Homo sapiens: one gene and its partners. The protein of the gene in region 4 interacts with the protein of the main gene of each other region in a biochemical or structural test. Each region holds a gene or a part of one and is shown on either strand. Other genes may lie near its edges. The genes, in order: PDK1, PDP1, PDK4 and PDHA1.

Region 1 (7,186 bases), on a different chromosome or scaffold from region 4:
CATAAGATAACTGAAACACATGTTCACACAATAATTTGTACACAAACATTCATAGCCATATTATTTATAATAACCAAAAAATAGAAACAAACCAAATGTCTATCAACTGATGAATGGATAACCCAAAGGTGTTATATCCATATAACAGAATATCATTTGGTCATAAAAAGGAATGAAGTACAAATGCATACTATAACATTATACTAAGTGAAAGAAGTCAGTAACAAAAGACCACATACTGCATGATTAAATTTATATAAAATGCCCAGAAAGAGAAATACACAAACAGAAAATAGATCAGTGGTTGCCAAGGGCTAGAAGAGAGAAAAACGGGAAGTGACTTCATAGGTACTGCGTATTTTCCTTTTTTTCTTTTTTTCAGATGGAGTCTCAATCTGTCACCCAGGCTGGAGTGCAGTGGTGCAATCTTGGCTCACCGCACCCTCTGCTGCTGGGTTCAAGCGATTCTCGTGCCTCAGCCTCCTGAATAGCTGGGATTACAGGCGCCTGCCACCACACCCAGCTAATTTTTTGTATTTTTTGTAGAGATGGGGTTTCACCATGTTGGCCAGGCTGGTCTTAAACGCCTTACCTCAGGCAATCTGCCCAACTTGGCCTCCCAAAGTGCTGGGATTACAGGCATGAGCTGCTGTGCCTGACGGAGTACTTGGGTTTTTTCTTAGGACTGATGAAAATGTTCTAAAATGAGACAGCGGCAATACTTGAATAACCTTATGAATTCCACTGAATTGTACCTTTTTTAAAAAAGGAACAATGGATGCCTTCAAAATTTTGCAGGATGATTATTCTCAGCTTCGAATTTCATATACAAACTTAAATATTGGGATAATAGTATAGGGAAACTGGCCCTTGGGCTAGGGGAGGGGAGGGGAGCAGGTGCTCTATTAAAGAGAGCTAACTCCTCAACTACTATAACAGAAAGGTAATATTTACTGTTTAAAATGTAAACATTAGGCCAGGTGCAGTAGCTCATGCCTGTAATCCCAGCACTTCGGGAGGCCGAGGCAGGCGGATAACACGAGGTCGAGTTCGAGACCAGCCTGGCCAATATGGTGAAACCCTGTCTCTACTAAAATACAAAAAATTAGCTAGGCGTGGTGGCGGGTGCCTGTTATCCCAGCTACTCGGGAGGCTGAGGCAGGTGAATCACTTGAACTCAGGAGGCAGAGGTTGCAGTGGGCGAGATCACACTACCGCATTCCACCCTGGGGCAACAGAGCAAGACTCCATCTCAAAAAAAAAAAAAAAAAAAAAAAAAAGTAAAGAAAGACTAAGAATCTCTGAGTAATGAGGCCTACAAAGGGCCAGGAACTGACACATTTGAATTTTTATAGTCTCTGCATTTATTACTTTAATATAAATTTTTAAATGATTATTAAAAAAGAAAAACACTATCATACTCTTAAACTGGAGCCATGCACAGTGGCTCACACCTGTAATACTAGTGCTTTGGGAGGCCAAGGTGGGAGGATCACTTGAGGCCAGGTGTTTTGAGATCAGCCTGGGCAACAAAGTGAGACCTAGTCTCTACCCACCAAAAAATTCTTTTAATTAGCCAGGCTTGCATGCCTGCAGCCTGCAGTCCCAGTTACTCTGGAAGCCATGGGAGGAGGATTGCTTGAGCCCAGGAGTTCAAGGTCACAGTGAGTGATGATCACACCACTGCACTCCAGCCTGGGTGACAGAAAACAATTTTTAATAAAATGTAAAAGAAGAAACTGGGCCACCTGAACAATGTAATAGAAAAGGCCTAGCACTGGGGACAGAAGACTGGATATCATGTCCCATAGCATTTCTGCCCTGTGTGATCCTGAGCTAATCACTGTGTCTTAGTCTCCACACCTGTAAAAGTGAGGATAAAATTACCTACGTCATGAGAATCAAATGAAACCAGTAGATTAGAAAGCACTGTTTTAAAATTTTTTAAATTATATATAAAATACTATCTCCATAATACTGCAACTACCCAAATATTTTAGATCTTACTTATCAAAGAGATATTAATGATAAATTGTCTGTCTCCAAGATTTATTTTAACTTGAATCACCTCGACGGGGGACCTGCATAGAAAAGACTCAAGGGATAACTATAATCCACCAGCTCAATGAAGCAATGTGCTTATTATCTATTACAGACAAGATTCTTTTCCCCTGAGAGTAGATTATGTCTTTTAGAAATTATGCGTATGGTTACCTTTGCATGTCTGTTCATCAATTACAAAAAAAAAAAAAAGAAAACAAACCATTAAACACATTTACCTTCACAGTCAAATCCTCATTACCCAGCGTGACATGAACTTGAATAGGGGGGTAAACACCTCTGTTGGCATGGTGTTCCATAGTGGCTCTCATTGCATTCTGAAATACATTAGGGTTGTATTAAAAATACAGCTTTTTAGAAAAGAGAAAGTGTAATTTTCAAGTACATATGCACTATTTGAAGTTTTAAAATTTGATGGAAATATGCCAAAGAATCACAATTCTTATAACCACATTTAAAGTTTTTTTTTTAATGGAGTCAATTTGGGGGGGATTTGAAGGATATTCTGACCTAAAGACTCCAACTAAATTTTGCTTATTTTCCAAAGTCAGACTTCAAAACACTTTTAACTAGTTACATTAAAGCAGAAAACTCTGTTCAAACACTTTTATAATTTTAGTAAATGATGGGCAAAACATTTTTGAAAATGTAGTTTCAGCTATATTTTTAGAACTATTTAAAAAACTGTCATAAATTTCTTTAAAGGAAAGCAATTTTTTTCATATAGTAGTAACAGCGATGGTCGTATTTGATGGAGCAATGAATCCCTTTATCTCTAGTTTGAAATTAAGGGTATTGTCATTGTAAAGCTGCTTTGACTAATTTCTAAAGGAAATAGGGTACACAGTGCCAACATATCAGAAGCCTTAAACAATATCATGACATTCAGCATTGCAGTAGAAAATGATATAAACTAGATGTAACTAAAAAGGCATCCGAATTTGGAAGTAAGAGTGTGTGGCCCTGGCACAGCAATTGCGATTGAGTCCTCTTATGGAGGAGATTCCATCATTTCCACCAAAGGCAGGTTAAGATTAGGTTCCAGGTGAAAGCCATTATTACTGACATTATGTACAATATAATACGGAGTGCCTCAATCATAGGGCACAAGATCTTTATGCCACTGGAATTTCAAGGAAAAAATTCGTGTTAATGCTTGAAGTGCCCATCACTACTTGTTTAACTACTTGGATAAAAAGATTTTAGGGCTAGGTGCAGTGGTTTATGCCTGTAATCCCAACACTCTGGGGCAGGACTGCTTGAGGCCAGGAGTTCAAGGACAGCCTGGGTAACAGAGTGAGACCTCAACTCTACAAAAAATAAAATAAATATTTTAAAAAAGATTTTGTAAGGTATTAAATACATTTTTGCTGTCTTGGAAGAAAGAACATTCTGCTGCTGTTCTAAGATATTCGGTCAGTTTTTCTGTGTTTCAGTGCACTTTTCCTTTACATTATCAGATTGAAAGCCACCCCCTCTTTCCTCTAGTTTGCTGCTGGCTGATGAAACACAACTGAAGAGAGACTACAAGCTTCTGATAGAGGGCAATCATTTTCACCCACCAGGACCTGTGCCCCTCACTCCTCACCCATTTTCTTGTCAACCAGCAAGTATTATTGGCGGGGAAAAAAGATACTCTCAATATTAGTAGCATAATTTGTTTTCAAATTTTGTTGTAAAGAGCAAAGATTACAGCAGAAACCCTGTAAGTCAATATAAATGACCTCCCCCTCCCAAGAAAAGCCAGACCAAAAAAAGAATTCTGGTCCTTTGAGGGTAGCAAGTTGAGAATCACTCTTCTAAATATTGTTTTATAAAAACATAAAGATAACTCTATTGAGCACCTATATGTAATACGTTGCCACTGTACTGGACACTTAGTATGTTATTCCCAATAGTCATAAACAATCCTGGACAGTATTCTTGTTTTACAGAAAAGGAAACTGAGGCTCAGAGAGGTTGAGTGACTTGCCCAAGGTCACACACATATTAAGAGCCATAATTGGGATTCAAACCCAGGTCTTTCTGACTCCATAGTCTGAGCTCACCACTACATGGAGATGTCTCCCTGTGTTGATAAAAAGCTGATCTCCAGCAATGTGATATGATACTGATGTGAAATGGCACTTCTTAATAGGAGAACCTAGTGGAATATTTGGCTTTCAGAGCAGATTCCTAACCTCAGAAAAGTACTGGTAAAGGTTATGTAATACTATTTTACAAACCTTGAAAAGTTCAAACACCATGTGATAGAGATGGGATGGTACATAAACCACTTGTATTGGCTGTCCTGGTGATTTTGCTACAGAGCAGAAGAGAAAAATATGAAAGTACAGAGAGATGTGCTTAAAGCATTTTTAAGAATAAACTGTGTAGTGATGAAAAGAAAACATTAACTACGGAGGACAGTATTACCTGGGGGAGAACTGCCACACCATTTCTTCAATGTATTAGTGTTTGAACCCATACCCACAAATATTTACAACTGATGATGACAAGAGTCCTGTGGTCACTTCTCACAATCTTGCATCACAATCGAACCAACCCATGCGCCCATTTTTCTCTAGGATGGTAAAGTCTTTTTTAAGATCGCTTAACTTTCGGGTAGGAATTTTACTTTCCAAATAGAGAAGTGTTAAAATCTTTAAATTCCACAGTCCAATTCACATGCATGCATACATTCTTCTTCTTCTTTTTTTTTTTTTTTTTTTTTTTGAGACGGAGTCTTGCTCTGTTGCCCAGACTGGAGTGCAGTGGCGCGATCTTGGCTCACTGCAACCTCCACTTCCCAGGTTCAAGCAATTCTCCTGCCTCAGCCTCCCGAGTAGCTGGGATTACAGGCGCCAACCACCACGCCTGGCTGATTTTTCTTTTAGTAGAGACGGGTTTCACCATATTGGCCAGGCTTGTCTCGAACTCCTGACCTTGTGAGCCACCCGCCTCGGCCTCCCAAAGTGCTGGGATTATAGATGTGAGCCACTGCGCCCAGCCCATACATTCTTTAAGCCATTTTCAAAATGTTTCACCTGGGTGGAATATTGTTTTATTTCAGGCATTTCGATGGATATAAAGCTGAATAAAAAATATGAGCTAGCATCAATTTCTCGAGACAGTAATTAATTCTACATTTAAACACTTAATAGGAGCCCCACTGGGGGTGGTGATAGGGGTGTGTATAAAACAGACATTTAGTAGAACAAATGATTAAGACTCATGATATCTTAGAATTCTAATTCAACCAATAAATCAGACCTTCCTCTGAATAAACTCCCCCTTGGGAACAAAAATGGGACATCTGGAAATTGCTCACAGCAGTTCAGGTTTGCAAACTATCACTTACTTGTACACTGTGATTGTTATTTACCAAATGCTATGCTACCATCATGGCTCAAAAGAGTTAATATGGCTTTAGAAAATCACCAAGCAATGCTATTTTCAATTGCATAACTTCACTGCTCTCTCACTCTAAGGTCCAGAATACAGCTTAGTAAAAGCCTATTTTGTTTTATTCTTCCCACACCTTCTTAAAGTGTCATCTTAGGAAATGCTTTTTTCTGTCAAACTACCATGCTTTCAGGAAAAAGAGACTCATCAATCCCTCTTCAAGGCATCTAAACCCTTTTTGTCCAAAAGGCACTAATCAGGGTAAAAAGAAAACCATCAGAGACAAACAGATTCTCAAATAGATGAGCATCTTTCTTTCCTCTTTTATAACCCCAGTCTATGTCCTCAACAACAGAAAATTATTTACAACTCAGGAAGTAGAAAAAGGGTAAGTCTTACATTAGTGAAGTGCATGTAAAAGTCAAATGTAACTTTCTTGGTATCATTTTCTTTCTATGACTAAACAGAAAATAAAAAATAAGCAAAGAATCAAAGTTATCAATTAAAAATAAAGAAAATGTGATACAAAAAGCCAAATCTTTTCATAAAGAATCTGACTAAATTACATATGTTTATAGATATATTTTTTACATGATTACTATCCTTTAGCCTTCATATCCAACGAAGTTGATAAAAAGTCATCTTCCATTAAAACATTTAAATTCTTATCCCTTATCAAGTAATCAAAGCACTAATTATTGAGAAAAAGACAACATCAGGCTTACCATTTAGTTCTTCAAGTTCTAGTTCGGGAGAGTTAATATAATACAAATCACACAGACGCCTAGCATTTTCATAGCCATCTAGTGTGAATCAAAACAAAACAAAAAAGGATTTAATAAATATACTTCTCTTTCACGCATTAAGATGGCAATGGTATTGACAAATCAAAGTCTTGAACTCTCTACAGAAGAAAATATACTTTGATAGTTTGGTGAAAGTCTGCTTTTTTTTTTTTTTTTTTTGGTAGAGACATGGTCTCCCTATATTGCTCAGGTTTGTCTCCAACTCCCAGGCTCAAGCCATCCTCCTGCCTTGGTGCTAGGATTACAGGCATGAACCACTGCCCCCAACCAGGGAAAGCCTTTCCTTTTTTTTTTTCCTTTGAGACGGAGTCTCGATCAACCAGGCTGGAGTGCAGTGGCGCTATCTCGGCTCACTGCAGCCTCCACCTCCCTGGTTCAAGCGATTCTCCTGCCTCAGCCTCCCAAGTAGCTGGGACTACGTAGGCATGGGTCACCACGCCCAGCTAATTTTTGTATTTTCAGTACAGAGGGGGTTTCACCATGTTGGCCAGGCTGGTCTCGAACTCCTGACCTCAGGTGATCCACCCGCTTCAGCCTTCCAAAGTGCTGGGATTATAGGCATGAGCCACTGTGCCTGGCCCAGGGAAAGTCTAAGTGTGACATGACAAAGCTGAATAGCCATAAACAATGAATGACAAATATAACTACAAAAAAAATGTAAAAGTCTATATGCTAAAAAGACACCAACAATGTAAAAAAGAAAAATAACAGGCTGGAGAAAATAATTGCTATCTATGTAACAAAACTTAAGAGTTGGTTAGGAAACACTCTTATCCATTGTTTGAAACCTTTTTGGAGATACCAAAATTTTATATGCATTTAAATGTTTTTAATTCTAGGAATCTCACCTCTAAAATACTAGCAAAAGTGAGCGTGTATTTAAGGATGTTCACAGCAGTACTGCTGGTATTGGTGGTAACAGAAAAAAATTAAAA
Region 2 (7,598 bases), on a different chromosome or scaffold from region 4:
AGAGGTTAAGTGTACATGACTGAGCCAGAAGATGTGCTCAAATGTTGGGCCACATGACAGTGGCTTCCATACTTAAACCATATCTCTTTTTAGGTTTGCGTGCAGAAAGCATATCAACTCATTTTGTGCTTTGAATAAAGGTTTTCTATCATTAAAAATGTAAACTAATGTAATCTTAATGAATTTTTCTTCATAATTTTATGACTGCATTTGCTCTTTCTTTAAAACTTAAGAATCTTACAGAAAAAAACAATGAAAATGTGCCTGTATGGAACGTAAACTGACTCAAAATACTATTTGTGTGGGGGGGAGGGAGGGTTGATAGATGCATAACAGGGTTTGATTGTTTAATTAAGGAATAACAAGTCCTGGAAACCTGCACTTTCCTTAAATTCCTTTGCTTCGACATTTTTTTGCCGGGGGGGGGGAGGGAGGGCAGCGGGGGGAGGAATTTTGCTCTTGTTGCCCAGGCTGAAGTGCAATGGCGTGATCTCAGCTCATCGCAACCTCCGCCTCCCTGGTTCAAGCGATTCTCCTGCCCGGCTAATTCTGTATTTTCAGTAGAGATGGGGTTTCACCATGTTGGTCAGGTTGGTCTCGAACTCCTGACCTCAGGCCATCCACCCGCCTCAGCCTCCCAAAGTGCTGGGATTACAGGCATGAGCCACTGCACCCGGCTTGGTATGACATCTTTTCTACTTTTGTAATTGACTGCAAAATGAATGAAATCTAGTGACAAAAAGCAATGATTGACACAGCAGGTGCTTTTAACAATACTTACGTTCAAACATCAAATTCTCCACTACATTTTTCCTTCAAGGCAAAAATTCTTGAGATTAAAAACAAAAAATGAGAGAGTGAATTTTATTGACTCTATCTTTCAGTTATGCAGAGGCTTAGTACATGGACTGAGATTATATCCTAATGCCCCAACTTCCAACATGCCTTCAAAAGACAAAATTCCTAGGGAAGTTGGAATTTATGAAAACTGTGCTGTAATTAATGAGCGTTCTATCCGCATCGGTACAAGTGATACATTCTCTCCATCAGATCAGATACCCTTGGGAGTCAAAGTACTTTCAAATGCTTTCATAAATAAGTAAGCAATGAAAAACTCTTAATATCCTTCAGATTATCCACTGATTCAACAACAAGAAAACACTCTACATCATAACTTTTGCTGACAAGCTTGTTAAATTAGTGTAGAAGGCTCTTGATCAGGCAATAAGAACAGCATCCAGGTACAACTGTTGGTAAAACAGAGCAGTGTCAAATTTGCAAGTTATTCTTGATCACAATTTTCACGGAAAATTTCCTATTCCATGATCTAGACTCAGCCACGTTGTATGTAGCATCTTCATCCCAGGCAGATTGGGCTGATTTTGCCAATGACTAATAAAGAAAGATGCACTGCAACCAGAAACAGGAAAGAGAGCCGTCCATTCTTACTGATGTGCTTAGCAGAGCCTGTGCCAAGACATTTTTTCCACTCCATCAATAGACCCACGGACCAAATTAATTAGCAAATGCTATTAAGGCACCGACTCCAGAGCCCTTTAGCTTTGCAAAGCTTCTGATGTAAATGAAAAAGAAAAGCTATGCTAATCATTTAATGTGTCGGAACCCCAGTTTATGTAATCCGATTGCATTAAACACTCTACATAAAGACCATCCGCGATTTTTCAACATTTTTCTGGAAATGCCTAGCCATTTCACAGCTCCTGCTATCTTTTTACATAAATGAAGAAAGATACGAAGCACCACACGCCAGTATTTTTTTGATTAGTTTCCTTTGTCGCTACCTGAAAAACTGCACTCACAAAGACATCAAAGCTATCTCAATCCAAGACGCGTTTGTCCCTTTTTCCAATCTATCTCATCCCTTAATACCACGCTGATTCATCTAAAACCATCCATACACAAAAATCTGTCACCATCCTTCCTGGGTACCCAACGCAGGTAGTTAAGTGAATACCTACCAATTCGTCTGGGCCCGGGACACACACACATTCTCCTGTCATCACAACACGGAGCCGACAACATCCACAACCCGCGCGGGCAGCAGCAGCGACAGCAGCACCGGCCCATTGAAAGCAAGGCAGAGATGCTCATTAGAGGAGGCGGCGGCGGGGAGGCGGGAGCGGAGGAGGGGCGAGGTCTCGCTCCAGCCCGGTGAATGGGCTGGGAGGTGGGGGGGAAGAGGATGGAGGAGGGATAAAGGGGTGGAGAGAACAAGGAAGCCAACCAAACCAACCCACCCCGCCGGGGAGGCAAAGCCACAGCCCAAGGCAGCGGGGCCCAGGCGCGAGCAGGGGTGCGCCCCGAGGGCCAGCCCCTCCATCCAGCCGGGGCGCGAAGCCCATGGACTGCAGCCCCGCCCGCTGCCCGCCCCGCCCTGCCCGGCCCGGCCCCGCCCCAGGGGTGCCCGTTTCAGTCCAGACGAACAGGGGCCGGCCGGTGTCAGGCTGCCAGCGGGGCCAGCCCTGACCCGGGGTGCGTCAGGGAGACCCTCAGGCAGTGCCGCAGCCCTACAGCCTCCCTGGAGCTCACTCTGCCGCCGGCCCCGCGGCGCCCTTCGTGCTGACAGCTGGAGCGCAGGGGCCGGAAGACGCTAGGGCTGCACGGCGCCCCCGCCCCCGCCCCCAGCCCCCCGACGGCCCCCAGCGCCGCCACGCCCGCCCCACAGCCCGGACGCCCGGCGCGCACCTGGCGCTCCAGGGCTCGTCCAGCCCTCCGCACGCCCGCGGCCGCCGATCCGCGAGCACGCCCGGCGCCCCCTCACAACTTTGGACGGGTGGAGGATCCCGGACGGGGCGGCTCGTGGCAGGGAGTAGGGAATACGAACCGGGCACGGCAGGAGACCAAACGATTCTTCCCGACGAGGAGGGGGCGACAACGACGCCACCGCTCGGCGCTCTTTCCACGCAGCCCCGTGCAGCTCCCGGAGCGCGAGCCCTCACCCCCGGCCTGCCCACTCTGCTCCCCTACCGTGCGGGGCCGCCACCCTGCCCCGCCCGCACGTTCGGGCCGGAGTGCTTCCCGCCTGCCGATTGGCTGCGCAGTGACGAGTGGGAGGGGAGGCGGAGAGGGCTGCGGCCGGGGGTGGGGCGGGGGCGGAAGAGGAGCGCGCTCCCCGCCAGCTTTGTGACGTCACGGGGGTCAGACAATCCCTTCCATTCGGCGCGAGCCGCCCATTGGTTCCCCGGGCCCGCCTCACGTGACCCCCCCCCCCCCGCCCCCAGCGAGTGGAAGGTGTGGCTGCGCGGCGCTAGGGAGCGGTGGTCTGTGGAGCTCGGCGGTGTTGGCTGAGCAGGCTGCGGGGTCGGGAGAGGGGAGGCGCCTGGGCCGGCTCCAATGTCTTCGCGTGCATGGGGCCCGAGGAACGGGCTGCTCCCCTGTCGTGCAGGCTTCCTAGAATCTCTGGCACCTCTGCGGGGATGCGGTGGTGTGGGTGGCCGGCCCAGCGGCCAAGCCTCCCCTGCGCCTCGCGGTTGGGTGCGGGCTTCCCAGGGTAGGCTGCGGGAGCGGCTCCCAGCCTCACGGGAACCTCAACTCCCTGCGGCTCACCCCAGCCTGCGGTACAAGGCGTAGCAAAGAACCTCGAGAGTAGCTGTTGCTTCGTTCGTTTGATACGTTGCAGATTTTAGGAGCATTAACGCCCATCATGTTTTCTATCGCCCCAGGGAGAGGAAGCAGGTGTAGACAGCAGCAAGAGGGAGTTGTGATGAGGGAATTATCTCTGTAGCGTAGATGTGTGCTCACGTTCTCTGAGGAGTTTTGAAATCAGTATTGTTTCCGTTGCCCTGAATGGTTACAAGGAGAGAACACTGGACTTGGAGTCAGAAAACTTTCATCCAAGTCATTCCCTGCTCTAAGTCCCATTTCTGTTCCATGAGATTGTTTCCACCTCAGATGAGATTAGACTTAAGGTGGCATTGGTATTGTCTGTGGTAAAACAAGATATCTTCGAGGGCTCTTCAGTGACTTACATCCATACATCCCTTTTATGGGATAGTGGCTTCTGAAAGCTTCCTTGGCAGTGGCAGATAGAGCATTGCACTTATCTTCCCTAGTGTTCACCAATAAGTTGACTTTGATTTATTACACATAACTTCTTACTAGCCAGTCAGGTTCACAAAATGATGTGGAGTGAATTTCTTTTTATGTAATAAAAAACGTTATATACCCAAACTGGTCCTTTATAACTCCTGGATCTTTCAAGTTGCTGTATTCTCTGTTCTCTAAATAAACTAGAGGAGACTGTTTTTGCCCATCCCCAGGTTACCCATGGAACTTTTGTGGCTAGTCTGTCTGGCCTTCATCCCAGTTTTTACAGGTCCATCTGCCTCCCTTCATCCTCTCCTTTTTGCTTCTCAAATGGGCTTCCCATAAATTGCAAATATTCTCCACTACTCTTCCTGTCATTTAATTTAAGTATCTGGTTTCTTCTTCATAGATGCATAGGATGGTGTAGCCTAGTGATTAAGAGTGCAGCTGGAGCCAAGCTGGCTGGGTTCCATTCCCAGCTCTGCAGCTTTCTGTGTGGTCATGGGCAACTCTGCATGCCTCATTCTCTCACATATAAGATAAAAATGTAAAAAGTAATAGCAGGGCTGTATTAAGAGAGTTGACATATATAGCTTGCTAAGAAAGTACATAGCATGTAGTGTTATATAAGTGTTAGCTATTCTTGATATTATCGACATGTCCAGGTCAGTGTTTTAGATTAAGAACTCCTAGCAAGTAGGAGACCCAGGCCCCCAAGTGCATTATATTCTATTGTTAGGTACTAATAAGTTATTAATAGAATGGAGAATCTTTGAACCTTAGAATATCAGTTTAAATTCATTTATATAGAGGATCTCTGCCTCTTAACCCTTACTTTGTGGACATAGAGACCCACTTAACTGAAGCTGTGAGTGGAATTTTAAGAGTTTCTGCTTTATGACCCAGAAATGAAGTACATACTAGACTTCTCTGTTGTCTTATCAACTTTTTCCTGGCCAGGCTTGGTGGGCTCCTGCCTGTAATCCCAGCACTTTGGGAGGCCGGGGCGGAAGAATTGCTTGAGCCCAGAGACCAGCCTGAGCAACATAGACCTCATCTCTACAAAGAATCTAAAAAGCAATTAGCTGGGTGTGGTGGCGCCTGCCTATAGTCTCTGCTACTCAGGAGGCTTGCCTGATCCCAGGAAGCTGAGGCTGCTGTAAGCAGTGATGCATCACTGCACTCCAGCCTAGGCGAGTAAGCAAGTTCCCGTCTCAAAAAAAACAAAAAGCTTTTTTTTTTAATGGTTGTGAAATAGAGTAGTAAGAATCCAACATCCAGGCCAGGTGCGGTGGCTCACACCTGTAATCCCAGCACTTTGGGAGGCCAAGACAGGTGGATTGCTTGAGGACAGGAGTTTGAGACCAGCCTGGCCAACATGGTGAAACCCTATCTCTACTAAAAATACAAAAAATTAGCCGGGTGTGGTGGTAGGCATCTGTAATCCCAGCTACTTGGGAGGCTGAGGCAGGAGAATTGCTTGAATCTGGGAGGTGGAGGTTGCAGTGAGCTGAGATTGCAGCACTGCACTCCAGCCTGGGCAACAGAGTGAGACTCCATCTCCAAAAAAAAAACAGAGTCCAACATCCATATCAAATGACCTCTTCAAAGCTGTTACCTTAGTAGCAACCCTTATTCCACACTGACATTGCCATTATTCAGAGCACTTTTAAAACTCCCTTTTCAAATTGTTTTCAGATCTGCACAGGAAACTCCAACTTGTTTTACTATAACCAACACTTTGGTTTTATACCAGAATAGTATTGATTCCCATCTTATTCTTCTTAGTTCTGAATGACCTGGATATTTCTAAAAATAACACCCACTCTCAAAAAAACTGGTATTTGCCACCACTAAATATAGTCAAAAGAATTTTGACATAAGTATTGAATGCCAAGGTGTTTTTGAAATCAGAATAAAGCCTTCCTAAAGTGATAGCTTTGAAATAATCTCATTTACAGGTATAAGTTTTGTCCTCTGGTTGTAAAGTTGTATGGTTCAGTGAGAGGTATATTATAAATAAACTACCCTTCTGCAGAGGTACCAACTGCTGGTACAACTGGAGGAGATTCTTTAGTATCTCAACCTTGATTCTCCTCTGGCCTGGCTTTGTTCCTGTTTCTAGATGGAGCTCCATTTAGCCACCCACTGGGCTTGCTTCAAAAGTGCTGTTTGTTATCACATGGCCAACTGGCCAGGGCCAGAACAGGTCCTTGGGTTTACTGCGTTGACCCCAGACTGTTTTAGCCACCAGAGCACTTGTTGATACTTCAACATTGGAAAGTGTTGGAAAGCAGCACTGAAACAACCCAGGAACGTTGTCGAGAAGGTAGGGAAGGAGAGAGGAAGGGGCTTCAAAAATAGTATGGTACTAAGAAAGCAATGTGCAAAATCACCTGTTTACACAAATGCTTTCTGTGATAAACAAAAATGCAATGACATTTCCTGAATATGAACCTTAACATTTAGTCATCCATTTGCCCTAGGATGGATTTGAAAATGAGCAATGCTTGATCAGATTGGCCTGATGTTCTTGGGGGCAGGTGATAAGACCCTTAGGGGTATTGGAGGTTAGCTTTGACAACATGGAGATGATCCAGCAGTCTCAGTGGTGCCAGCCAAGAAGCTTAAAATAAACCTGCATGTGGGTCTGAGATGCCCTCACCCTGATGGTTACTGATTTACTGTGGCCTTTGCCAAAATCAGCAGTCACAGGGGAAAGAGGCTGGTTTACCATACTCCTCTAGCACCTGTTTCCCTACAGGTCTTGGCTAGGAAATCAGCAAGAAATTGCCAAGTAACTAAAGAATGGCTACCTGTTTTATTACCATGTCAGTGTCGGGAGTTCCTTCTTTGAAATTAAGTTGTTTGGAGTTAGCAGTGAGATTGACGAATCATCTATACAAAAGAAACAACACGTACTGTGGTTCATCTCCTTTGGACCAGAGACTGTTCTAGATGCTTTCACATTTGTCTGATTTTATATTTGGAAAGGAATCCATTCTCATCAGAATTCATGAGACAATAGAATGTTCAAGGGGGGAAAAGCTTTATTCTCTTACAAAATGAGAGACCAAAGGCTCTTGGCTGGCAGGCAGTAAGTTTCTGTGTACTAATTGAACATGACAGAGAATACAAAAAGTAGGTGTCTGGGGTTGCGTAATGATAGAATTCAAGTGCTTTACCAAGAGTATTGCATACCTGTGGACCTGAGATTGGCACATACTTCAAAAATTCCTGTTAGTTAGGCTATCTTCAAATACTAAAGGTGACATGTATGGGCAAGAGGGGAGAGATGAAAGGGGAGGTAGGTGTTGGTGTTAGTATCTGGCCATCAGGCAATTTGGCAAGATTAATTTTTTATTCAGTATAATTCTGTAGGTGGATTCCCCAAAGCACAGAGGGTATGAGGTGGAGGACAGGCTTCCGGGGAACTGAGACATTGGGGTGTGTCTAGAGCACTTCCTACAATAGGTGCCAGTCATGGCTGCCCCGAAGCAGGTCCTGCCAATCTACAGACTTCAGTAGGAGTCCCCAAGCTGTGAACTCAA
Region 3 (7,915 bases), on a different chromosome or scaffold from region 4:
ATCCTCCTACACATCTCATTATTGGAGTAAATTTATAGTAAAAATAGGTCTCCCTGGGGGATCAAAAATGAGTCCTCTACATTTCTTCACACTCAGCATCATTTTCAATGCCATATTTCTTCGCTTCTGAAAAACCAACAAGCCAAAACTTGTCATGTGTAAGAGGGTAGTGATTTATTATTCAGAGCTGAATTCCTTTAATTTAGGTCTAAAAATATCTTAGGAATCTATCTGGAAAGAACCAAAGTTTTAAACACTTATTCTAATGCATAGAGCTTACTCTGATAATGCTTTCTGGTCATCTGGGCTTTTCTCATGGAATTCCACCAAATCCATCAGGCTCTGTATATACCTGTAAAGAAACAGGTATGCTTTAAGTTTTAAAATTAATAGTCAGATACAAATGGCTGAAAATAGAATAGCTTTTTCAAATAATTTGAAAAGAGAAAGTAAGCATTATGTTCAAACTTAAAACTTTCCTCCAGAACATTTGGAAAATAATATAAATTTAAAATGCTATAACTTTTAATCCTTGACTTTCAAACTTAAAATTTAACGCAAAATGTTTCTTTAACTATTTCAGGTCAGTATTCAGTTTCCTGACTGTTTTGTTTGGCAAATATTTTCATTTCTTCTAGCAATAATACTTAGAAACAACTTTTTTTAAAGCTTTTTATTTTTTTTCTACTACATTCATTCATAGAAGAGTGTAAGTCTTGACTGCAATAGTAAATACTACAGATTGAATATATGTTTTAGATTGTAATTGTCTTATAGGTATATAATACATGTATTTCTTGAATCAATGAACAAAAGGCTGTGCAGTCAGTGGATTAAGATAAGGGTCTCATGCATGTCTGCTACCTGTGCATATCCTGCTTCTGTGACCCAAAAATTTGCTGTTTTGGGTTACCTACCTTCTCTAAGCATCAGTATCTTCATTTATAAAATGAGATGACAACAACTGACACTTACTGACTGCTGGCTGTGTGCCAAGTGCTGTCCTAAGTGGTTTTTTTTTTCTTTTTTATGGATTATCTCATTTCATTACACTCAAACATCCCTCTGAGGCATATACTTTAATCTCTTTAATAACAGATGGGAATAATAACTCAATGGCATAAAGAGTTTAAGACACTTGCCAAGGATTCCACAACTAGAAGTGACAGAGGCAGGATTTGAACCCAGAGCCCACTCTGTCAATCACTTTGTAAGTTACAAAGATTAGGCCTTCCCTAAATAGCAGTCATGTGAATTGGTTTCTAGGCATAGGATTTCTTTTGCAATATCAAACTCTTTTATTATTGAAAGTGCTCTTCTATAATTGAAAATTAAAATTGCATGCCAATTTTTTTCAAATTTTTCCTAGAACTCAAAATTTTATTATAAAGTAATCTACTTTTTCAGGGTAAAAATGTCTGTTTATAGTTTTATAACTTCTCTAATGATAACTTACCCTAAATTAATTTTAAAATTCTTACATCTTTCAAAAGTAGTTACCATTCAGATCACCTGTTTTCCAATTATGATGTTAACATAGTATAAGAATTCATACCCGGGTAACTGTTTCAAAACTAGAGACTTCAATATGGTTCACCACTTACCAGCTTTTAACCAATTGCACTGAAGAGGTATTTACTAATTGGGTCGGGAGGATATCAATTTCCTTCAGAATGTTGGCGAGTCTCACAGGCAATTCTTGTCGCAAAAATGCAAAAGAAGTTCTTTCACATGCATTTTCTGAACCTATAATAAATGAAATCAATTTAGTTTTGAGAAAAAGTGTGTCTAAATGATATATCTAAATAGCATTAACTATCAAATATTGAACACACATATATTATAAAATTATATTTCACTCTCAGTTGGGTTACTGTTAATCGATAATTCAGGGGCGATTGTCTCCTTAATTGACTAATTCCCTTCGTCCTTTCGTCTTTCCTTCTTTCTTTTAAAAAGTGACAGATATAGGAGAATTATTGTCTTCTCTTTTTGAAGAGGATTCACTTCCAAGAAGTAAGAATATCCCACAGTTCTTAGAATTTATAAAAGACTGCAGGATTCGGTCACACCACAATGTCAACAACACAACATCCTTTAATGAGTGGGGACATGGAATTGGAGTTGGGGGATAAGAGGCTGGAGGGGGAGCTGTGATATTTCCAGAGTAGTGATATCACATTTAAACCCTTGAAATCTTCCTTATAAGATTACTGCAACAAATGTGTAAATATTTTCAGCAACAATGCAAATATATGGAAAACTATAATGATAAAGAGACAAAGAAATCTGTCAGGAATGCAGAGAGATGTACCCTGTGGAAGGATGCCAGGTGGCTAAGGAATAAAATCTGTTAATTTGAGGCTATTTAATACTATTCAGAAACTTCTCCAAGCAGTACTATGCTGTGAAGGAGAGGATAAAGTTTCCAGTCCATTGTTAAACGGTGACCGAAAGCAAAAAGTATTTTGACTGGAAGAGCGGGTCAGAAAGAAGAGTGTGCAGATGAAGTCAAACCATCCAGCGTCGGCAGGCTTGCAGGTGGCCTTGACCTGGAGGCACCCCTGTCAGAAAGTAACCAAATCTAGGAAAAGGAAAGGTGTGCTGGCGTCGAGGCTCCAGGGCTCAGCAGCAAAGTGAACCCCAGTTGTTTTAGCTTGAGCCTAGCCCTCCCTCTACCAAGGCTGAAAGTTAAGGCAGTTCCCCAACCCTAGGACCCAGCTTGGGCCCTGTGTCCCCTCTCACCAAAGTCCAGTAGCTGCTTCATGGACAGCGGGGACGGGCTGTAGCGCGAGAAATGCTCCACCTCTCGGGGCACCAGGCCGGCGCCGTTGAGCGAGCCAGCGCTGCGCAGCACGAAGCGGGCCGCCTTCATCTTGACGCCCACCCGGCCTGGCGGGGACTGTGGCTGGCTTGAGGGGCGAAGGCTGCTCGGAGCAGAGCCTGGTTCCGAGGGGGCGCGGCGCGTCCGGGCGAGGACTGCAGGTGCGCTGGCTGGCTTGTGCGCCCCGGCCTGGGCTGGGGTTTGAGGGTGCCGCGGAGTGAAGAGTCTGGGCAGAGTCGGAGATGCAGTGGTTCGAGATTCAAGTTCAAGTCTTCCCACCAGCCGCCGCCGCCCGAGGTTTTATTTGTCTCCCCGCACTCTCCCCCCGAGTCCCAAACAGGAGGAGTCACTGGAACTTGGAAACGCGTCCTGAACTCCAGGTCGCGCCAATCAGATCAGAGAAAGAACTATGGGCTCCGCCCCTCCAGCCGCGGTCATCACAGAATGGCCTGGCACGGTGACCACGGAGTGCCCTGGCACCGGTGCCCGCGGCTGTGACGGAAAAAGGGTGGGAAGAACAGGGAAGAGGAAGCAGAAACAGGTATCTGGGGCAACGTGGGCTTAAGATTAGCCTCTTGGGACGGGGCTCCGAGTCGCGTGGGCTGGGGTCCCGCCCAGGCTCGCCCTTGTTTACAACTCGGAGGCTGTCTCAATGTCAAGTACTCCTGGCCACAAACTGTTTCCAAGAGTTTGGACTCCGCGTGCTCATTGGTCCTTGCTCAGAGCAGGGCTTTTACAGTAGCCAACAAGCTGCGTTCAAAAGTATGGGCTTCTCTGCCACTGGACAGAGAGAAAGGAATAAACAACCTAAAGACCTGCGCCCCCACCCCCACCGCCCCCTTTTCTTCAGAAGAGACCGGCACATGGCAGGAACTGTACGTTCCTTTTGCTGAGACTTGAGGGGCTGCCCAGATACATTTACTTTTTCCTGTGGTAATAAAAGGCCATCAATTCGTTCTTCTCCGGCAACACATTCTTTCCGTTAGGTTTAGTTCTGTTAATTAAAAACAAAATTAAAAAGGGATCAATTTGTCAGTTTGCCTTACCTTTTGCGGTGATCAGAGAATTTGTTCACTCTGCCCTGTACGAAATGTCCTTACTCCAAATCTTTACCTAAGACATTCCATTCTACCCTCAAATGTCTGGCACAAGCTGTCTGCTGCAAAAGGTCTTCCTTGATTACTTCTCCTCACTTCTTCCAAATAAGGCCTTGGTCTTTCATGGTACTATTCTATAGCTATTTATGTTTTTATATTATCCCTCTCTGACTCCCCCCTTTCCTGAAAGAGATCAGGGTAGGGACCCTGTCTGATGCAGCTTTGTGATTCCTACTTTTTCACTACTCAATATTTATTAAATTAATGACAGTGGTTGAGACACATTACCCTGTCATACTAACCTCCTTTTCCTCTCCCGACACTCTAAAAGGACTAGGGAATGAAGCCACCGTGTTTGGGAAAGTTGGGAGTAAGAGAGTTGGTTACAAATGTAATAGAATGGGAATTTATGAGGTGTTAAAAATGATAGTTTGTTATAAAAAACCTTTTTGGCCTCCTCCCCCTGCGTTTATTTTATTTTAATTAATTAATTAATTACTTTATTTATTGAGACAGAGTCACACTGTCTCCCAGGCTGGAGTGCAGTGGTGCCATCTCGGCTCACTGCAACCTCGGCCTCCCAGGTTCAAGCGATTCTGCTGCCTCAGTCTTCTGAGTAGCTGGGATCACAGGCACACGCCACCACACTCAGCTAATTTTTTCTATTTTTGGTGAAGATGGGGTTTCTCCATGTTGGCCAGGCTGGTCTCAAACTCCTGACCTCAAGTGATCCACCCACCTCGGTCTCCCATAGTGCTGGGATTACAGGAGTGAGCCATTGCGCCCAGCCTGCCCTGCATTTATAAGCAGAACGGGCAACTCTGAAAGTCATGAGTGATCCTAGGCTCTGCTGTCATCCTTTGCCCTCTTCGTCTAGGAGACTGCATTAAATCACAGGACAGATTTCCAATTCTATCTCTAGCACAAACTTTCTTCCAAGAGCCAGATTCTCCTATTCAATTGCCTATTTGGTTTCTCCATTTGGATGTCTAATAGGTATCAATTTTGCTTCTCTAAAATCAACACCATTATGAGGGATCTGAAACAGTCCTGGCAAACCCTGTGTCAGTTATGTGGCCTGTTTGGAGGCACCATATTAGCTCTCCTACTATTTCTCCCATTGTCTATACATTACCTATAGATGGTCGAGAATTTGAGACTTCCTGTTATGACCAAATATTTTTTTCAGACCTTTGAGAAACAGCTATGTGAAGACATGCAATATTTATGATCTTCCAATGAAGAGGATGGGGCCTGGGTTCTTAGAGAATATTCAAGGATGATCCAAGTATAGACTCTAGCAGTTGCACTTGAGTGGGACAGAAAAACAAAAAAACCAAAAACACAACAGCTCAAGCACTTATCTTAAGCTGAAACAGCTGTGGGAATATGGGCAAGTTCCAAATTGCATCTCCACTTGTAGACAGGTTTTGATGCCACTATTATTTATATTTTTGTACTTGGAATCCTTTATTAAATATTTGCATAGCTTGATGCAGCAACGAAATGTGTTCAAGTAGCCAAAAAACTGAATAAGACTCTCTTTGATGAAGCAAGTAAATTTAAGGTAAAAATCCCTTCTTTTTCTTAGATTGGGTCTTAAGAACATAAGTAAAAGTAAAGCATGCATTTGCTTTTCTCACTGTATATGGAACCTGGAATAAGCAAAAATATATATTACAAAGAATTATACTCTGATTTTCAGAGGAAAGGCAATGGAAATTATGCATTACAGGCAAGTCTAATTTAGGAAAGTCCCATGTCCCTAAGTACATTGATTGCCCAGCCTAGCTTACCCAGCACTACTATTCTATGTGCTGTGGGCTGATTAAAGATCAGGTGAAATCATATGATGTTCACAGAGATGACCTAGGGCTAAATGTGAACTGAGGTTGCCAAAATTTTGTCTCTATGTCATCCCTTCTAATAATATTTATGAAGTTACTCTCACAGTGCATTGCATTCTTCTGTGTCATTTCTGTATGATGGGAACTGTTATTATAATTGGCAGCATTCATGATAGCTGGCCTAGAAAGGTCAGGTCAAGTTGTTTACCCAGTTGGCTAAGATGCTATGTATTACCATGATTAGAGAGTGACCTGGGAAAAGAGTGGCACTTCTCTTCTCAGGTTGAACACAAATCTTGGAGGTGATCCAGTTGGGACAGAGGTGAAGCAAAAATATTATTTGGGGGCAATGGATATGACAAATCCATGCATTCATTTGAGTAAAAGTAAACCATGAGAAGACTATTAAATGACTAATGCTAAGGAATAGAAGAAGTAATCAAAGCTGTTCCCTTGCATACAATGCTGAACATCCCTGCTTGAGATACCTGGTTCCTAAAATTTTCAGTGGCACCTTACCTAGCATTAAATAAGTTCTGTCCAGCTTGCCTGGAAAAAATCTAATAACAAAAGGCCACGGGTAGAACTTTGAGAATGCAAGTCACACTTTTTCCAGAGGGTGGGGGATGGCCAATTTGATAAAATCCATCAGATCCCTTAAAGGGAAGTCTATACAATTTTTCCACCTCAGGATCGTATTCCAAGGAAGCAATTTAAAATGCCCGTAACAGGAACTCTGAAGACATGATGGAAAGATTAACAGACTTGACCATAGAATATTAAAGTTAAAATATGAACAGCAGACTTGGAGAACATATCTACAGAATACGTAATAGACAAATGATGATTTAAGAGATGGCTGTTTCAGTAGGGAACCATTCGGTCATGATCTATTCCCTCATGGAGATGATAGACTTGTGGGGGAAATTGGCATTACAAAAGCATATGGCCAATAAGCCTATACATTAAGATAGGACAAGGGCTAAGAAGAAAATGATTGTGAAGAGTGTAATAGGCTGGAACTACCTTAGATTTGGTGGTCAAGGAAGGTCTTCTTGAGTAAACGACAATTAAAAGAAATGGAATGAGCTTCTATTGGGGATGAGAGGGAATACTGGTGAAAGCATATTGGTGAAGCTACTGGGAAAAGCAGGATCTAACCCACAATTTGGTCTCTGATGTTTCTTATAGTTACTGTTAACCTAGAGGATACTAGGTGCCAGGAGCTGGACTGGGTGCCCTGATGGGTGCAAAAGCGTCTGCTCTCATGCACCTCAGATTATTAGCTGATGATGGAAAACAATAACTAATTATTTTTAATTTATTAGATTTTCATTTAATCCTCAGGGCAAAATGCTATAATTAAATGCATTTAAAAAGCAGCCCATAAGAAAGGTTCACGCCATGGGCAATGCTGGTTGTGGTGGTATTGGTGGTAGTAGTGATGGTGCCAGACAGTGGATATGTTAAGGGTGATCTGGGGTGTTTGGAGGAAGAGCTATGTTGGGGATCAGGAAATGCTACTAGAATTGGCATTTGGGATGGCTGTAGAAAGATGAGCAAGATTTTGGCAAATAATTGGTAGACAGTGGGGAAAAATGTCCAAGACTGAGTAAAAGCACAGATGTAGGAGCTAGAGATACATTGGAGAAATAATGACTAGTTTCACCTGGCTGCTGTCTAGAGTACCCTAAGGGCAGAAGGAAAGGAAGATTCAGTTATCTCATGAAAGCCTGAAATGCTAGTATGAGGTCTATGAGATTTCTAGAGTAAGCAGCAGGGAACTGTTGAAGCCTTTAAATCAGGGAGCAATGTGTTTTCTGTTTAAATTTGTTAGCAGTTAAATAATTCTACTAAACTTTATTGAACACCTACTATGTACTAGGCACTGTGATTAATGCTGAGGACATAAAGATGAAGAAGGCATAGTTTGTCTTCAAAGACGGGAGACAGACATGAAAATAATCTAAAAAATAGAATGTGGCATATATGGTATGTGTACTGGGGGGACAAGCAGCAGCCAGGGGAGGCTTCCTTGGAGGAAGTCATAGGTCATCTGACTTATAAAGGTGGAGCAGACATTCATAGGCAGACAAAGAAGAAAGGCATTGGAGCAGTGAGGAGAGGGAACGAAAAGAGCCATCTGT
Region 4 (7,509 bases):
GCAACATGAGACTCTCATCTCTACAAAAATAAATATTAAAAAATTAGTCAGGTATGGTGGCACACACCTGAGGCTACAGTGAGCTATGACTGTGCCACTGCATTCCAGCCTAAAAAAAAAAATTAATTAAAAAAAAGTAAAACTTTAACTTCCTAAATACATAGGAACCATTCATGTGAAAGAGGAAAAACGTTTCAAAAATTCCAGATTCTAACAGTGTAAATTAAAACTCTTACCTACCACTTATAAAGCCAAAACATTGCTAGTAAAGATCTCACAAAAGGAGCCATACAGAAATGCAAACAATAAAATAACATTTTAAATGCATTCAATCTTCTTCCATGAAATAAGAACTATGAAAACTATAAACCTTATTCAAAAATAAAAACACAATCTTGATATTCATTTCAAAGTTTCACACCAAACACTCTTTGATGAGACAATGGCAATCTTTAAGCCTGAGATAAATCTCCCTACCTGCCTGGTTTTAAGAGAGTGAGAGTAATCCCAGCACTTTGGGAGGCCGAGGTGGGAGGACTGCTTGAGCCTGGAGATGGAGACCAGACTGGGCAACGTAGCAAGACCATGTCTCTAGTAAAAAAAAAATTTTTTTAATTGGCTGGGTGTGGTGGTGGCACATGCCTGTGTTCCCAGCTACTCAGGAGGCTAAGGCAGGAGGATCGCTTGAGCCCAGCAGGCTAAGGCTGCAGTGAGCTGTCCTGCTACTGCACTCCAGCCTGGGTGACACAGAGACCCTGTCTCAAACAAAACGAAAGTAAACCAGGGAGAATAAAAAAGGAAAAAACACACAGCGTCTTGGGAGGTTAAGGGGATTATCTTGTGTCACAGCCATCAGACCAGCTGCCTACCCTTCTCCCTCCCCTTCTCCCTCCCTTCATGGAGTATCACACAGATGGTAGGAGTCTAGTGCAGTAAGTCTGCCTAATTTGGGTGAGCCACTGCTTATTGTTTACTGTCAAGATTTTTGTGAAAGGCTTATATGCAAAATGTCTTTTTACATGTATAATATAAAAAACTAAAACGTTGATCTATTTTGTTACTTATAGTTAAGTAAAAAGACATCCATAAGTATGAAGAATTACAAAATACAAAGAGTCAACACGTTAGTTTATTATTCCACCCTTTAAAAAAATAAAAGTGAAACTTTTAGTTCTATCCTTAAAAGCTTCAGGAATGGTTCCTAATTAGTCCATGACAAGTTGAGTGACACAGAAAACTTCTAATTATCTGAAGAGTTTACACCACCAAGTGGAAAGATACCTGGGCACTTTCAAAGGTGACTTCATATCTGGAACTCAATTTTCTTCCTACTGTAAGGTGGCGGGGGGGGGGGGACCCTGCAAACTGATACAGGAAACAATGAACCTGACTTGCAGAAGAAGAAGAAAACCTACATCAGGTGCCTAAAGGAAGGATGTTTCTGAGCCCGTAACTACCGGTACAGCCCTCTACCCACAGATATCCCTAAAGGGAACGCTTTTTTTTTTTTTTTTTTTTTTTTTTTTTTAAAATACGGAGTCTTGCTCTTGTCGCCCAGGCCGTAGTGCAATGGCACGATCTCCGCTCACTGCAAACTCCGCCTCCCGGGTTCAGGCTATTCTCCCGCCTCAGCCTCCCGAGTAGCTGGGATTACAGGAGCCCGCCACCACGACCGGCTAATTTTGTATTTTTAGTAGAGACGGGGTTTCACCATGTTGGCCAGGCTGATCTCGAACTTCTGACCTCAGGTGATCCACCTGCCTCAGCCTCCCAAAATGCTGGGATTACAGGCCTGAGCCACCGCACCCGGCAGTTTTGTCATTATTTTAGGCAACAGGATTCCTAGAGGGGCATACCTCTTACCTTTTGACAATCTCTGCCTGTACTAAGTAGAGCGGTATCAAGTCCTGGGGGAAATACCAGAATCCCGAGGCCTGCAGTTACACCAATTAACACGACCTCACTGTGCCTAGGGGGGTCAGAATGCTAGCTCAGGTGTTAGGCACCTCTAAATGCTGAGGCCATGAAATAGTGCTAAACTCTACCCCCCACCCCTCAAGCATCGTTGCTCTTTGCTTTAGCTACTTGTACCCTAAGAATGTGTAGGTAAGGGGAGGGGAGGGCAGCGTCCTCTGAGTTCTGCTTCGGCGCTCCTGAACTCACTGCCAAGAAAAGCTCAGATGTTGAGGGAGAGGGAAGAGGAGGAAGTTTGTTTCTGAAGAGGCTGACCTTCTGTGAACCCGCCTCAGAACTGAGCACAGGTGTTCAAGAAATGTATACCGAACTGGAGACTCAATAAATAACACTATTCAACACACATGTTATCGATTATGTGCCAGGTGCTATTTGGAATCGTTTCCACACGTGTCACTCGTTGAATCCTCAAGACAACCCCAAGAGGTGGGGACTCTTATTATCTCCATTTTAGAGTTAACTGATAACATTTCAGAGATAACTCTTATCTCCATTTAGAGATTAACTCCACTTCGAGCAAACATTTTAGGAAACCGGGTCCCCGGGACGTTTAAAAACTTGCTCAAGGTCACAGGGCTAGTCAATGGTGAGGGTGCTGTTTGAACGAAGCCACCCTGTCTCCAGATTCTACGCTATTACAAAGCCTCTCGGTCAAGAGAAATTAAGTTAGAAGATCCGAAATGAGTGGGGTCAATTGGAGACTCGAAGGAGGCCGAGGCCACCCTTTCCGTGTCCTGTAACCCAACAGGCACCTCTTGAGCACACCGACTTCGCCTGGCGCACAGCTGGGCCCGGGGGCGGGAGGTGGGTGTCGAGAAGGGGGAAGTTCACACGGACCTTGGCGTGATCCCGGTCCGTGCCGCTTCTCCCGAGGCCAGGAACGGAATGCAGGGCGCGGAGGCGAAGTAAAGGCTCCCCGGCTCCCCTGGCGCCTTCCACCCCGCTCTGGGTGGCCCGGCCTGGCCCGCCCTGCCCTCCGGCCCCGCCTCAGCCCCACTCGCGCCCCATCCCGGCCCGCCCGGGAGGTCTCACCGGCTTCTGAGAAGCGCCAGACAGCACGCGGGAGACGGCGGCGAGCATCTTCCTCATGAAGCACAGGCAGTGGCGGCAGCGGCGACTCCTCACAACCCAGGAGGCACGACGCGGGTGCCCCCAAGTCTCCTTCAGGTGCCCCAGCAGACGCCACGCCTCAGTCGCACCGCGGCGTGACAGAGTCGTAATAACGTCATGCGCTGCGCCGGGCCGCGGGCCAACCAGAACGGCGTCCAGGGGGTGCCCCGCCCCCGCTAAAGGCCTGAGGCTGCCCATTGGGTATCAGCGCCAGAGAGGGAGGGGCTGAGGGCTCTTTCCGACGCCACGCCGCGGGCGGGTGAGGAGGCGGGGCTTGATAGCGCCTGCGTGGGAAGGTGGGGCCCCCGCCTCCAGGGCGCCGCGGGAAAGGAGCCTTCCTAGATTCCGCTCTGCTGACTACCGGGGAGGTTGTGCAGGCCCCGTCCTACCGAGCGCCTACTCCTGCCGGTGCTGCAGCTCTGCAGCCCTCGTTCAGTACATCTCGTTCAGTACACTAGATGATGAAGATTAGCAGCATGCTCAGAGCCAAAAGACAGAACATCTGGTTTCTGTAAATGGTCTGCCACTAACTTTGTCTTTAAAAGATCACGTAGCAGTTGGACAGTTCTGCCCTGTCTACTTGAACGCGGATCAAAAAATTTGTTTCCCAATATATGTCGAGAGGACAATGGGAAAAATCTTTTTTCTCTAGTTATTGGTTCACAGGCTCACTGCGAGTTAACAGCGTGGCTCAGCCGATGATAAAAGCACACACAGAGACAAAACACCAAAGCAACAAGGGGCTCTATTCAGAGGATCAAAGGGCTCAGGAACCCATTGTGTTGTGTCCTAGTGGGATTGCACCTGGGGTTCCGGGTTCAGATTTGGGCTCCACATTTTAAGGGGGATAATGAGTAAACTGAGTGGAATCCAGGGGACAGTGGTCAGAACGGTGAGGGGCTGCGATTGTGACTTATGAAGAACGATTAAAGAAGTTAGGAAGAAAACAGGCTAACTAGAATTGGCTGGGTTATGATGTAACAACTGACCTCCAAATTTCAGTGATTTCAAGAATTTGAAGTGACGCGAGCCATCGTACTCGTAACACAGGTCCCTCACAGCGTGGCACCCTCTCTCTGGAACTTAGCTTGTCTCATGGATGAAGAGAAAAGGGATCATTTAAACCGGCTCTCAAAGCTTCTGCCCAGAAGTGACACATGTCACTTCCTCTCAATTTTCACGGACCAGAGCTAGTTACCCGACCATGTCTGAGTTCCACAAGGTGAAATATAATCCTCCTGCCAGGAGGAGAACAGAAAATTGGATGAACAGTAAAACCAGAGAGGATTGGATATGTCTTCACACATTTTCAGGCCAGTCATGTTCCAGGAGGAAGAGCTATTTTGTGTGTGTGTGTGTGTGTGTGTGAATAAAATCATTTCATTTCAGCATAACAATGAATTTTCTAACAATGACAATGGTCCAATGAGATAATTCTCTCCCAGTGTCACTGAAAGTATTCAAAGCAGAAGTTCAAAGCATGACCAGCTCTCAGCATAGCTAGAGAAATAATTTGGGCACTGGGCCAGACTCTGGACTGAGAGATCGTGTTGCAGTGGAAGAAAACTTCTTAAAGGAGTGAGAGGGCGCCATTAAAAGGCAGAGATGGACGTGAGAAACTTGCATGGTATGATTTCAGCAGCTGCTGCTGCTGATAGAATATGAAAGGTAAAAGAGAATGAAAAGGTTGGAGGCCAGATGTCCAGCTCAGGAGAAAAAGCTGGTCTGAATGGTTTGGGACATGTTGACCTGGTGGTGGCAGTGGCACAGCTATCTGAAGATGTCCCCCGGGAAGTTGGAGTTGTAAGTCTGGAACATTTGCTAAAAATATTAATTTGGGAGTCATCTCCACGGGGTGGTGATATTGGTTGTGCATGTACGGGAACTCTGTAGGCCATATGAATATGAATTCATTCATTCATTTGCTCATTCATCCAACACCTATTATTGAGCACCGATTTTGTGTCAGACACTGTACTACACACTGAAGATATAGCAAGGAACAAGTAAAATATAGGTCCTACTTAAATACATGATTGAACAAATCAATGGGTTAGAAGGAACAACTTTTCCTTACAGTAGAATTCCAATTAATTAATATAGAAGGAATGATGAAAATAGAAAAAGAAAATCACCATTTGGCAAAGACCACAGTAACTGTTGCAGGTGAGAATTATCATCAATACAGGCTAAAATTAGTGGGTAAATGTATGATGAGAAACAGGACATTTGCCTCATCTCAAATGATCTCTCCACTAGATTCATTACAAAGTTTAAAGTAACTTTGCAGTGCAGAAACAAAGTAACCAATTTTTCAATGACTAGGATATTTTCTCTGCACTTCTTGTTCTTCATATATATACATATATATACACACATACGTGTATATATATATATTTTATTTATTTATTTTTTTGAGACAGAGTCTCGCTCTGTCGCCCAGGCTGGAGTGTAGTGGTGCAATTTCAACTCACTGCAAGCTCCGCCTCCCAGGTTCACGCCATTCTCCTGCCTCAGCCTCCCGAGTAGCTGGGACTACAGGTGCCCGCCACCACGCCCGGTTAATTTTTTTTGTATTTTTCGTAGAGACAGGGTTTCACCATGTTAGACAGTATGGTCTTGATCTCCTGACCTCGTGATCCGCCCGTCTCAGCCTCCCAAAGTGCTGGGATTATAGGCATGAGACACTGCGCCCGGCCTCTTTTTTTTTTTTTTTTTTTTGAGACAGATTCTCACTCTGTTGCCCAGGATGGAGTACAGTGGTGACATCTTGGCTCACTGCAACATCTGACTCCCAGGTTCAAGTGATACTCCTCATTCAGCCTCCCGAGTAGCTGGGAAAACGGGCGAGCACCACCATGCCCGACTAATTTTGTATTTTTTTAGTAGAGACGGGGTTTCACCATGTTGGCCAGGCTGGTCTCAAACTCCTGACCTCAGGTGATCTGCCCACCTTGGCCTCCCAAAGTGCTGGGATTACAGGTGTGAGCCACCGCGCCCAGCTGTTTTCAGATATTTGAAAGCAGAGTTGGAAGCAACTTTGAAGGTGAGGGACACTGTGAGATGCTGTGTCAAGTGGTGACAGGTGATGATTGTGGTTAATAGTCATTAACTATAGGCTATAGTAACGTTATAGTAATGTTATAGTCATTAACTATAGGCTATAATAACTATAGGCTATAGTAACGCGCTAGAACATTCACAAAAGACTCTTGTATCAGGAGAGGAGGCCGGAGAGAAAGAAAGATTTGCAAAAGGCGGGAAGAGAAAGTCTTAAGAAAGGAGGGCTCGTTAATCTTGGGGGAAATTGTAATCCCAGCACTTTGGGAGACCAAGGCAGGAGGATCACTTGAGGCCAGGAGTTTGAGGCCAGCCTGGGCCACAAAGTGATACTCGTCTGTACAAAAAATAAAATAATTAGTCTGGTATGGTGTTGCATGCCTGTAGTCCCAGCTACTAGGGATGCTGACGAGGGAGGATTGCTTGAGCCTAGGAGTTTGAGGCTGCAGTAAGCTATGGCGGCATCGCTGCATGGCGGCCTGGGTGACAGGGCGAGACCCCATCTCTCTAAAAAACAAAACAAAAAAAACGTATCTGGGTGAAGCAGGGCAATTTTGATTAGAGACCCTGAAATATGCCTTTTTACCTTTCGTTAGCGAATCACCCTACAAGTATTCGATCAAGCTGAGCTTTAAGGCAAATCATGCTCCTTGACATGTCTCCGGTTTTCCAGTAAGAAACACCCATCCCCCAGCAGATGAATTAGAGTAGGACAATCATATACATGTGTCATAAAAGTCAACAAATCTTTGCAAATGTCTTTGAGGTACTAAGCAGCAGCTGGTGAAAGGATTATGGCTAGGGGTCATTTTAACTTTGGAACCATATAAATGTTTTTACACGACCATAAAACACAATGACATAACAATGGAAATGAAATATAACAAACCAATTTAATAACATACCAAGTTGTCAGCATAACCCCGCAGAGAATGATTTCAAGTTATTTCACACCACAGCAATGTGACTGCATATGCCTGGTGGGGTATAGCCTAAAGACAAAAGGAACTGGAAAAAAAAATCTTAAGGCGAGGCTCACACCTGTAATCCTAGCACTTTGGGAGGCTGAGGTGGGAGGATCATTTGAACCCGGGAGTTTGAGACCAGCCTAGGCAACATAGGGAGACCCCATCTCTACAGAAAAAAATCTTAAATTGTTCTCATTTGTCAGGTGTTATTATTTAAGACTGCACATACCCACACTGATAAAGTAAATATATAATTATGTTAATGCCATTGGGAACCAAGATTTTCAGTATAAAAAACAGAGACACAAATGTAAAATTCAACAGGTCAAAGCCAAGAGGTCCTGAATTTGAATTGGAAATATCAGTATAAACTCATGATTATTTCCCCCCCTCAAGA

Evidence for each region.
Region 1: the proteins of PDHA1 (region 4) and PDK1 form a complex in vitro, tested with the Homo sapiens proteins (2 studies listed by BioGRID, with this or other methods).
Region 2: the proteins of PDHA1 (region 4) and PDP1 form a complex in vitro, tested with the Homo sapiens proteins (one study listed by BioGRID).
Region 3: of the proteins of PDHA1 (region 4) and PDK4, one has a biochemical effect on the other in vitro, tested with the Homo sapiens proteins (one study listed by IntAct).

Annotation. Positions count from the first base shown.
Region 1 is NC_000002.12:172,565,918-172,573,103, reverse strand, and holds part of PDK1 ([Pyruvate dehydrogenase (acetyl-transferring)] kinase isozyme 1, mitochondrial isoform 2 precursor), read right to left. Parts: intron 6,249-7,186; coding exon 6,171-6,248; intron 5,905-6,170; coding exon of another isoform or gene 5,888-5,904; exon of another isoform or gene 5,082-5,887; intron 4,364-5,081; coding exon 4,287-4,363; intron 2,379-4,286; coding exon 2,280-2,378; intron 1-2,279. UniProt on the Homo sapiens protein: Kinase that plays a key role in regulation of glucose and fatty acid metabolism and homeostasis via phosphorylation of the pyruvate dehydrogenase subunits PDHA1 and PDHA2.
Region 2 is NC_000008.11:93,912,327-93,919,924, reverse strand, and holds the start of PDP1 (pyruvate dehyrogenase phosphatase catalytic subunit 1), read right to left. Parts: upstream 3,003-7,598; 5' UTR 2,846-3,002; exon of another isoform or gene 2,707-2,845; intron 2,590-2,706; exon of another isoform or gene 2,342-2,589; coding exon of another isoform or gene 2,259-2,341; intron 2,015-2,258; coding exon of another isoform or gene 1,980-2,014; intron 830-1,979; exon of another isoform or gene 792-829; coding exon of another isoform or gene 782-791; intron 1-781. UniProt on the Homo sapiens protein: Mitochondrial enzyme that catalyzes the dephosphorylation and concomitant reactivation of the alpha subunit of the E1 component of the pyruvate dehydrogenase complex (PDC), thereby stimulating the conversion of pyruvate into acetyl-CoA.
Region 3 is NC_000007.14:95,593,419-95,601,333, forward strand, and holds the start of PDK4 (pyruvate dehydrogenase kinase, isozyme 4), read right to left. Parts: upstream 3,099-7,915; 5' UTR 2,876-3,098; coding exon 2,746-2,875; intron 1,747-2,745; coding exon 1,605-1,746; intron 353-1,604; coding exon 281-352; intron 1-280. UniProt on the Homo sapiens protein: Kinase that plays a key role in regulation of glucose and fatty acid metabolism and homeostasis via phosphorylation of the pyruvate dehydrogenase subunits PDHA1 and PDHA2.
Region 4 is NC_000023.11:19,339,592-19,347,100, reverse strand, and holds the start of PDHA1 (pyruvate dehydrogenase E1 component subunit alpha, somatic form, mitochondrial isoform 1 precursor), read right to left. Parts: upstream 3,175-7,509; 5' UTR 3,064-3,174; coding exon 3,007-3,063; intron 592-3,006; coding exon of another isoform or gene 478-591; intron 1-477. UniProt on the Homo sapiens protein: The pyruvate dehydrogenase complex catalyzes the overall conversion of pyruvate to acetyl-CoA and CO(2), and thereby links the glycolytic pathway to the tricarboxylic cycle.